Regions from separate parts of the Homo sapiens genome. Here region 2 is linked to region 1. Evidence: fine-mapped expression QTL. Tissue or cell type: testis. Region 1 holds a variant in brackets; the other region holds the start of a gene. All regions are shown on one strand. Distances are between the middles of the regions.

Region 1 (5,145 bases):
AGCCAGGCCGGTGCTTGTAATTGCAGCACTTTGGGAGGCCAAGGAAAGCAGATCACTTGAGTTCAGGAGTTTGAGGCCAGCCTGGGCAACATGGTGAAACCCCTTCTCTACAAAAAGTACAAAAATTAGCCAGGTGTGGTGGTGCACACCTGTAATCCTAACTACTTGGTGGGGCTGAGATGAGAGGATCACTTGAGCCTGGGAGATTGAGGGTGCAGTAAGCCATGTTTGCACCACTGCACCCCAGCCTGGGCAACAGTGTGAGAAACCCAATTCTGTCACGTTTGGTGGCTGGCTGATGACAGCTGTTCAACAAAGAAACACCAGTGGATGAAGGGAGACCTAATTTCCTAAAGAAGCCAAACCAAAACCTCATGCAACAATTCCTGAGGGACAGGAAGTATCTGCCCACAGCTGTTTTGTCCAGGCTGCTTGGGGCTGCAGTCAGCCAGGGAACCAAGGGAACTGAACCCCAGGGCCCAGTCTTTACTGGCAGCTGCCCATCTTAGAACCCACGGTACAATGGGGGAAGGCCCTAAGAGACAATTAAGGCATTTGCCTCCAACACAACTTAAGGGAGTGCCCCAAAACTCAGAAATCAAGATAGATAACTGATATGGTTTGGCTCTGTGTCCCCACCCAAATCTCATCTTGAATTGTAACTCCCACCATTCCCACGTGTCATGGGAGGAACCCAGTGGGAGGTGATTGAATTATGGGGGTAGATCTTCCTGCACTGTTCGTGTGATACTGAATGAGTCTCATGAGATCTGATGGTTTAAAAAAAAAAAAAGCAGAAGTTTGCCTGCACAAGCTCTCTCTTTTTGCCTGCTGTCATCTGTGTAAGATGTGACTTGCTCCTCCTTGCATTCTTCCATGATTGCGAGGCTTCCCCAGCCACGTGGAACTGTGAATTCTCTATTAAACCTCTTTCTTTTGTAATTTGCCCAGTCACAGGTATGTCTTTATCAGCAGCGTGAAAAGTGACAAATACAATAATACTTTTTTGTTGTTTTTGAGATGGAATCTCACTCTGTTCCCCAGGCTGGAGTGCAGTGGCATGATCTCGGCTCACTGCAACCTCTGCCTCCCAGGCTCAAGCGATTCTCCCACCTCAGCCTCCCTAGTAGCTGGAACTACAGGCATGCATCACCACCATGCCTGGCTAATTTTTGTATTTTTAGTAGAGACGGGATTTTACCATGTTGGCCAGGCTGGTCTCCAACTCCTGACCTCAGGTGATCCACCTGCCTCAGCCTCCCAAAGTGCTGGGATTACAGGTATGAGCCACTGTGCCCGGTCCAAGATAGATAATACTTTAACGCAATTTTTAAAAATCAAAATTGGCCAGGTGCATTGGCTCACGCCTGTAATCCCAGCACTTTGGGAGGCCAAGGCGGGTGGATCATGAGGTCAGGAGATCAAGACCATCCTGGCTAACACGGTGAAACCCTGTCTCTACTAAAAGTACAAAAAATTAGCCGGGCATGGTGGCGGGTGCCTGTAGTCCCAGCTACTAGGGAGGTTGAGGTAGGAGAATGGCGTGAACCCAGGAGGCGGAGCTTGCAATGAGCCAAGATCGCGCCACTGCACTCCAGCCTGGGCAACAGTGCGAGACTCCATCTCAAAATAAAAAAAAATCAAAATTAATGTAAAAATTGATGATGAACAAAATATTAAGATTTCAAATAAACACAAGATCCAACCCTTCCCTCAATATCGTGTCTCATTCACCTCACCCTAATCTCAGTCTTGGTTCCAATAAAACCTTGTTTTAAAAAACAGGCAGCCAGCTCACAGACTGTAGTTTACTGACAACAAAAATATTGCATTAGGCCAGGCACAGTGGCTCACATCTGTAATCCCAGCACTTTGGGAGGTTGAGTCAGGAAAAGTTTTTTTTTGAGATGGAGTCTCGCTCTGTTGCCCAGGCTGGAGTGCAATGGCGCAATCTCGGCTCACTGCAAGCTCCACCTCCTGGGTTTACGCCCTTCTCCTACCTCAGCCTCCCTAGTAGCTGGGACTACAGGTGCCTGCCACCATACCTGGCTAATTTTTTGTATTTTTAGTAGAGACGGGGTTTCACCATGTTAGCCAGGATGGTCTTAATCTCCTGACCTTGTGATCGGCCTGCCTCGGCCTCCCAAAGTGCTGGGATTACAGGCGTGAGCCACCATGCCTGGCCTAGGCAGGAAAATTTTTTGAGGCCGGGAGTTCAAGACCAGCCTGGGAAACATAGCAAGAACCTGTCTCTACAAAAAATAAATAAATTAGCTGGGCGTGGTGGCACATGCCTGTAGTTCCAGCTACTCAGGAGGCTGAGGCAGGAGGATTGCTTGAGCCCAGGAGTTCCAGGCTGCAGTGAGCCATAACTGTGCCACTGCATTCCAGCCTGAGGCACAGAACAAGACCCTGTCTCTGAAAGAAAAAAAAAATGCATTAAATTTTATTTATCTTGATTACTCGGTGCCCCTTACATTTTGGGCCTGTGGTGAGTTCCTCACTCCCCTCACTCTAAATCTGGGCCAGCCAGAGAAGGCCCCTTCCTGGAATACAAGCCCCAGTGAGAAGACCTACAGCCTGCAGAGAACAATGTGCCCACATTAATTCTGCTTGGGATCACAATCATTCCATGTGTGCTGAGGGCTCCACATTGGTCAGTAACCCCTAATGCCCCTGTCCCTTAGATTATCTGATGCCACCATACACCTAGGACGAGTTATTTAAGCTTTCTTTTTTTTTTTTTTTGAGACAGAGTCTCGCTCTGTCGCCTAGGCAGGAGCGCAGTGGTGCGATCTCGG[C/G]TCACTGCAAGCTCCGCCTCCTAGGTTCACGCCATTCTCCTGCCTCAGCCTCCCGAGCAGCTGGGACTACAGGTACCCACCACCACGCCCGACTAATGTTTTGTATTTTTTAGTAGAGATGGGGTTTCACCGTGTTAGCCAGGATGGTCTCGATCTCCTGACCTCGTGATCCACCCGCCTCGGCCTCCCAAAGTGCTGGGATTATAGGCGTGAGCCACCGCGCCCAGCCTGCTGAGTTGTTTAAGATTTCTAAGCTCATCTGTCTCATCTGTAATAGGGAGAGAGGAATGTTAATTTGCTGCTCTTCATGCCAAAGAAATCTAAATTGGCCTGAACCCAGGACCTTTTGCACATCCAATGCATCAGCACTGAGAGCATTGTGCCAGGCATTGTCCTGGGGAAATGTTGACAAACAGGGTGTGAGATGTATTCCCAAGCCCTACTCACCACAGTTTATATTCACAGCCTAGGAAGAGATAGGCCCAGGAGCCAGGTGCGGTGTCTCATGCCTGTAACCCCAGCACTTTGGGAGGCCGAGGTGGGCAGATCATGAAGTCAGGAGATCGATACCATCCTGGCTAACATGGGGAAACCCTGTCTCTACTAAAAATACAAAAAAATTAGCCGGGTGTAGTGGCGGACACCTGCAGTCCCAGCTACTTGGGAGGTTGAGGCAGGAGAATGGCGTGAACCCAGGAGGCGGAACTTGCAGTGAGCCAAGATTGCGCCACTGAACTCCAACCTGGGTGACAGGGCCAGACTCCGTCTCAAAAAAAAAAAAAAAAAAAAAGAAAGACGTAGGCCCAGAAACCAAAATCACTCATTCATTTGTTCATTCGTTAATTTCTTCAGTAATAGGCATCCACTGACTATATATGCCAGACACTGCCAGGCATTGGTTGAGTCAGACATGATCCTTGGCCTCAAAATATTTACAGCCTAGTACAGTGAGATAGATAAAGAAAAATAACTGCAATACGAAGCTATGTGTGCTCTTTGAAGATAAAGGAATGTGGAAATTTAGAGAGGACAACTATTTAGCTGATAGTGGGGAGGGATTTCGCAGAGTAGGACACAAGTAGAATTGTGCGAGACAGACGGACTAGCACTTTTCAGACAAGAACCTGTATGTGCTAAGGCAGAGTGTGAAAGAAAGCATTGTGATTACAGGCCAGGAGGCTGAGCAAAGCATACAGTAAAAGTAGGTGATGGGTCCAGGCCTGGTGGCTCATACCCGTAATCCCAGCACTTTGAGATGCTGAGGTAGGAGGATTTCTTGAGGCCAGGATTTCAAAACTAGCCTAGGCGTCATAATGAGACTTTGTCTCTACAAAACAGTTTTTTTTAATTAAAATTTTTTAATTTAAAATTTTTAAAATTAAAAAGTAGGTGATGGGCTGGGGTGGCAGGTGAAATAAACTCAGCATAGACTATGAAAGGCCTTGAATGCTGAGATTAAAAATGGGATTTTATTCTGTTGGCAATGGGGAGACTCTGGAAGCTTATAGACAGAAGATGGCATGTTTTGATCTGTTTTTTGAAAGAGAATGCTGGCAACCATGGAAAGGAGGGATTGAAACTGGAAGTGTGGGGAGGTAGAAAAGTCAGTTGGGATATTTTGCATTAATTCAGGGAGGAATGATAAAGGCCTGAACCAAGGCACTGCTGGTGGAAACAGAGAGCAGGGATGGAGTTTAGTGAGATTTCTGGTAAGAAGCTATACAACTTAGTGAGTAACTATATGTGCAGGGTGAGGATGAGAAAGGAGTCTAGCTTGATTTCCAGTTTTCTCATTTGGGCAATTTTACATAGTGGTAACCGTATACGAATAGGTAAATACGGGAGGAGGCACAAGTTGGGGAGCAGAAGATGTGCTCGTCTGTGGGATTTGTTGACTCAGACATGCATGGAAGATTGTTCTGATAAAATGATCAGATGAGATATGATATGCTTAGGGCTCAGGGAAAAGTTTAGGCTGGAGATACTGCTGTGTGAGCAGAGGGTATATGAGCCTGGGTGAGCTGACCCGGGGAGAGTTTAGAGGGAGAAGACAGCTGAAGGTGAGAAGCCAACAGTGGAAAGTGGAAGAAATAAGGGAGACCAGGGGGCAGCAAGGGAGATCTGGGAGGAAGAGCAGGAAAGAGTGACATCCAGGAGACCAGGAGAGCTTATAAACGAAAAGAGGAGAAAGGGTTCCACCCACCAGAGCGAGAAGAGCATGAGGACAAGAACCAAGCCGTAGTTTGAAGACAAGTTGGCCATTGATGACTTTAGCAAGAGCAATTTCAAAATTGACCAAAGTCTGCACCTCATTAAACCACAGATCATTTCCATGGAAGGGTGG
Region 2 (5,145 bases), 350 kb before region 1:
TGGGCAAGATGGTGCCTACAGGCAGATATGAAACAGGTGGGCTGGCACCTGGGCACAGTGCTTGCCCCTGCTGCCTCTTCCCTCCCAGGTATGGGAAAAGACACAAAGAGGACACGCTGGCCTTCTCGGAGTGGGGGTCCCCGCATGCTGCTGTCCCCAGGTGAGTTTGACTCCCTGCCCTGTCTGTCCAGCTCCCTGGAGCTGAAATGGGGGTGGTGGGACTGAATCAGGGCTTGGAAAGGTGTAGTGGGGGGTGGAAGAGGGAGAACAGGAGCCCAGGGCCAGCCTGAGGCCTCCTGAGGGCACGAGGCCTACCCCCTACACTGCCATGTTCTGCCCTGTCCTCACAGGGAGCTCAGCCCGCTGGACTTATAATGCCACCTTCTGTCTCCTACGACTCCATGAGCAGCGCCAGCCCAGCTCTCCCCTCTGCACCCTTGGCTCTGGCCAAAGCTTGCTCCCTGCTCCCACACAGGCTCAATAAAGCAAGTCAAAGCCACAGCCTGTCCTGTGTCTCTGTGGACCCCTGGTGGGGGCAGCAGGAAGTGCCAAATGCATGGGAGAGAAAGGGGAGGGCAGGGCAGGGCAGAGGAAAAGGGGATCATCCAGAACGTTGGCGGGGGTCATCAGAGTCACTCAACTCATCCTCTCCCCTTCGCAGAGGGAAAAGTGGTGGCCAGAGGAAGGCAGGGACTCCTCTGAGCAGATGGTCCTTCAGCAAGTCTGTGAAGTGGCAGTCTTGAATCTTCCCAGTTCAGTACCCATAGACCTTCCCGACACAGCCTGATGACAACCCTTCCCCAAGTGCACCCCTCACCAGTGCCTTACTGCAGCCTAGGCAGCAGAAGCACCAAAATTTATACGAAAGCACCCTTGGCATGGGGGCAGGGGCACAGCCCAGCCTGGAAGAACGATTCTGGTGCTATGGCAGTCATGGCTGCATCCAGGGGCCTGAGCTGCCGTCCAGAAATTTGGAGAGAATGGGCTGCCCTGAGAGGTAGTGAAGTCCTGGGCACAGGAGGTATTCAAGCTGCTGTGGAAGGGGAGGAGGCTAGATTAGCTGAGAGTTCCAGCCACCATGAGTTGAATCTGTAGATTGTACACTCCAGCCCTGGGAGGACAAGGACCTGGATCCTGCCCCAGGGAGGACTTCCCAGATTCCCAGAGAACCCATCTTTTCCTGGCCCTTCTCAGGCACCCTGAATAGGTGGGGACAGTGCGCGTGTGCATGCGTGTGTACGCGCATGTGTAAAGGGGAGAAGTGAGGGAACTAGAATGTTTCTGGTTCCTAGAAAGGCTTCTCCTGCCTCCCCCACATGCTTGGTCTCAAGGGATGGGGTTATGGGTTTGGAGGATGAGGGGTCCACTTTCCTGGGCTCAGCACCTTGCACAGAAATGGAAATGACACACAATTGTGTTTCCCCTCAAGTCCTACTCCATCTGGTGTGTGCAAATGACCTGGAAGTAGAAACAGGTCCTAAAAGGCAAAGAGCTTCTAGAGGATGCAGCTGCTTGGCTCAGATTGATTTTTTGTTTGTTTTTGGAGACAGGATCTTGCTCTGTCACCCAGGCTGGAGTACAGTGGCATGATCACAGCTCACCATAGCTTTGACCTCCTGGGCTCAAGCGATCCTCCTGCCTCAGCCTCCCAAACAGCTGGAACTACAGGCACATGCCACCACACCCAGCAAATTTTTTTATTTTTTAGAGACAGGGTCTTGCTATGTTGCCCAGCATGGTCTTAAACTCCTGGGCTCCAGCGATCTGCTCACCTCGGCCTCCCAAAATGCTGGGATTACAGGTGTGAGCCACTGTGCCCAGCCTCAGGTTGATTCTTAAATCCAAAGATGTCTGGATAGAGAGATGGTTTCGCAAAAGAACGGTTTGAGTCTGGGAGAGGGAGCCTGAAGTCCCAGCATTTTCTCTGGCAGCTTAAGGGGATGCGCGGTGAATGGGGAGAGGAGTCTGGGCTGTTTGGTAGAAACTTGAGCCAGGTGGGAGTTGGGGTGTGTCTAGCTGAAGCCCCTTCTTTGAGGTTTCTTCTCTCACCTCTGCTCTCCCTCTGGGTTAGAGCCCCCCACACTGGTGCTGTCTGTGCAGGACTACAGGGGCAATAAGTGTCTTCTCCAGGACCCGTATCTGTGTCTCTACCACGGGGTGGAGGGCCAGACCCACAAGGCCATGTGTGGGTGGAGTGGGGGAAGGTGGATGGGTTGCCAGGGGAGGCAGGGGAGGACCCCCAACAGCTGAGGTCTTTTTCTCTCACAGCAGAAACTACAGGGTCCCACTTCCCGTTCCATGGACTGGTCCCTCCCTGCCCGCAGGCCCACAGAAGTCACTGAAGCAACAAAAATTTGTCTTTATTGTTTTCACTGAGGGGATGAGGAGGGGTCGAGGCCCCTCTCAATACAAAGGGGTTGGTGGGCAGAGAGGCGTCTGGAGGCCAAGGCCCAGCCTGGAGAAAGAAGCCCCCCCCACAGGGGTGCTGTGTCTCCCCGCATGCCCGCCCCCAGGAACTTCCTCTCGCTAGCACCCAAGCTGCCCCCAGCCCCGAGGCCCCTGGCTCGGTGCCCAGCATCCAGGCTGTCCTACCTGGGGCCCCGGGAGGAGGTCGGTGGTCGGGGTTCCGAGGTGTTCAGCCACTGGGGGTTCGTGGTGGTCCATGGTGGGGGTTTCGTGGCTTTTGATGGGGAGGTGTCCGTGGCGTTCGCAGTTTTCTTGTGGTTTTTAGATTTCTTCGGGCTGGGAACAAGTCTTTGCAGTCATGAGGCCGCTCCCCGAGCCCAGCTCAGGCCGCGATGTGCGTGGGGGTGCCTGGTGGCGTCCGTGTCCCCCCCCCGCGCCCCCCCCACCCCCCGCTTTCCTCCCTCCCTCCCTCCCTTCCTCACACCCTCCGCCGGCCCACCTGCTGTTGAAGAGCTTCCCCAAGTACTTCTTGATGGAGCCTAAGTTCAGCCAACTGGCGGCCCTGGGCTGCGGCACTTGCAGCTCCTCGCCGAGGGCGCCCTCGGGCTGCATCAGCAGCGACACGAGGCCCGCTATGGCCAGAGCGAATGCGCAGCGCAGAGCAGGCGTCTGGAGGGGGCGGGGCAGACAGAGCCGCGGGAGGTCACGTGATGCCGGGGCTGTGGTCAGCGCGGCACCCGGACCGGAGCTTGCAGGTGTTCCGCGCGGTGGGCAGGCTGGGGTGCAGGGGCGCTCAGACCGAGGGTCGTGTCTATTTCTGGGACACACACCAGAGCACGGACGCCTTAAGGGACATCCTGGTGCTCGGAGGAATGGTACACACCTGGACATGCCCGGTGATGCAGGCAGAGCATCGAGGCGCGGTGGCTCACGCCTGTAATCCCAGCACTTTGGGAAGCCGAGGCGGGCGGATAACCTGAGGTCAGGCGTTCAAGATCAGCCTGGCCAACATGGCGAAACCCCGTCTCTACTAAAAATACAAAAATTAGCCGGGCGTGGTGGTGGGCGCCTGTAATCCCAGCTACTCTGGGGGCTGAGGCAGGATAATTGCTGGAACCCGGGAGGTGGAGGTTTTAGTGAGCCGAGATTGCGCCACTGTACTCCACCCTGCCCAACAGAGCCAGACTTCGTCTCAAAAAAAGAAAAAAAAAAAAAAGAAAAAGAAAAAAAAAAAAAAAAAAACGAACGAGGAGACACACCCTAAGGTGGACGCATGAGGACGGCATAAAGCCATTGGTCAGCTCCCTAACCTCACTGCCCTCTCTCCCGCAAACTCCTTGCTTATCCCCCTCCTTTCTCCCTGCTGTTCCCGCAAAATGACGGTCACTCTGTTCTCTGCCTGGAAGACTCTTCCTCCAGACATCCTCATGGCCAGCTCTGTCTCCCCTTGTAAGCATTAGCTCAAAATCCACCTTTTAAATGGATCCTACCCTGACACCCCTATTTATAATTGCAACCTGGCCGGGCGCGGTGGCTCACGCCTGTAATCCCAGCACTTTGGGAGGCCGAGGTGGGAGGACTGCTTGAGCCCATGAGTTCAAGACTAGCTTGGGCAAAAGACAGAGAGCCCCGTCTCTACGATTTAAAAAAATAAATAAATAAAATAATATTGCAACCAAACCCCTCATCTTGCTCTTTTTCTTGCTCTATTTTTGCCCTATTTTTTCTTTTCTTTCTTTTTATTTTATTTTATTGTTTTAAGGCAAGGCCTTCTTTTGCCTTCCAGGCTGGAATGTAGTGTCGGGATCATAGCTCACTACAGCCTCAAACTCCTGGGCTCAGGCCATCCTTTTGCTTCAGCCTCCCAAGTAGCTAGGTCTACAGGTGCATACAATCATGCCCAACTAAATTTTAATTTTTTGTAGAGATGGAGTCTTGCTATGTAGCCCAGGCTGGTCTCAAACTCCTGGCCTCATGAGATCCTCCCGCCTCACCTCCCAAAGTTCTGAGATTACAGGTATGAGCCGCCACACCTGGCCTGCACTTTCTAACTTACTATATTCTATACTTATATTTGTTGTCTGAGTCCCTTCCCAGCGGCATATCCTCCCTCAATGTAAGCATCATTAATTACAGCTGGGCTCTTCGCCTATTTTGTCTATTGATGGATCACAAGCACCTAGAATGGTGCCTGGCACTTAGCAGATACTCAGTAATACATATTAAATGAATGACTAACAGTTACACACAGGAAAGCCAGCCTGAGGATTCACACACCCAATGCACAGAGAATTTTGTGCCTGCAACACACAATGATTCACAGACTATGATGCCCGTAAACATGATGCACACTCCCAGAGCTCCTAGGCCCCTCAACCCTCTTTTAACCAGGAACTCTCCTCATCCCCACCACCCCAAGCAGGAATAAGAAGCCCTAGTAGCTATCCTGGCCATCAGAATGGCAGACGAGGCTGCCCTGGCCTAACTCCTTCATGCCCTTAGTGGGCCTGAGGAGGGGCCCTTGGTGCCAGCCCCCATCCCCAAGCTCTTAGAGAATACAGCTGATGGGGGCCCAGACTTGGCCACCAGACATCACCATGGTGCTGGGCAGGTGCAGAGGAGCTCAGCAGAGTGTCTCTGGCCAGGACCTGAGGCCCTTTATATTCCTAAGCATCCCTGCCCCCTTTCCCTCTGAGGCTCCACTCCCAGCATAGCCTTCTTTTCCTCCCTGTGTCGTGA

Which allele goes with the higher level. Alleles are on the strand shown, and positions count from the first base shown. SD is a standard deviation of normalised expression in the study named.
For the expression in testis of the gene that starts at base 3,042 in region 2, G is the high allele of the variant in region 1 and C is the other (moderate effect, 0.57 SD a copy in GTEx).

The links. PIP is the estimated chance that this variant, and not a neighbour inherited with it, causes the effect.
Region 2: it holds the start of LINC01976, and the variant in region 1 is fine-mapped to the expression of LINC01976 in testis (GTEx, PIP 0.96).

What each region holds. Positions count from the first base shown.
Region 1 is chr17:43,583,564-43,588,708 of GRCh38, reverse strand. No RefSeq gene overlaps it. Among named protein-coding and RNA genes, the nearest start is that of ETV4, 40 kb to the right of the region's middle. The variant C/G (reference allele first, on the strand shown) is at 2,802.
Region 2 is chr17:43,936,158-43,941,302 of GRCh38, reverse strand. LINC01976 (long intergenic non-protein coding RNA 1976) reads right to left here and starts at 3,042. Exons shown (of 2, transcript NR_136406.1): 1 at 2,906-3,042; 2 at 2,341-2,742. PPY (pancreatic polypeptide) reads left to right here. Exons shown (of 4, transcript NM_002722.5): 3 at 89-160; 4 at 351-499. The coding sequence ends at 375. RefSeq lists an enhancer at 2,756-3,256.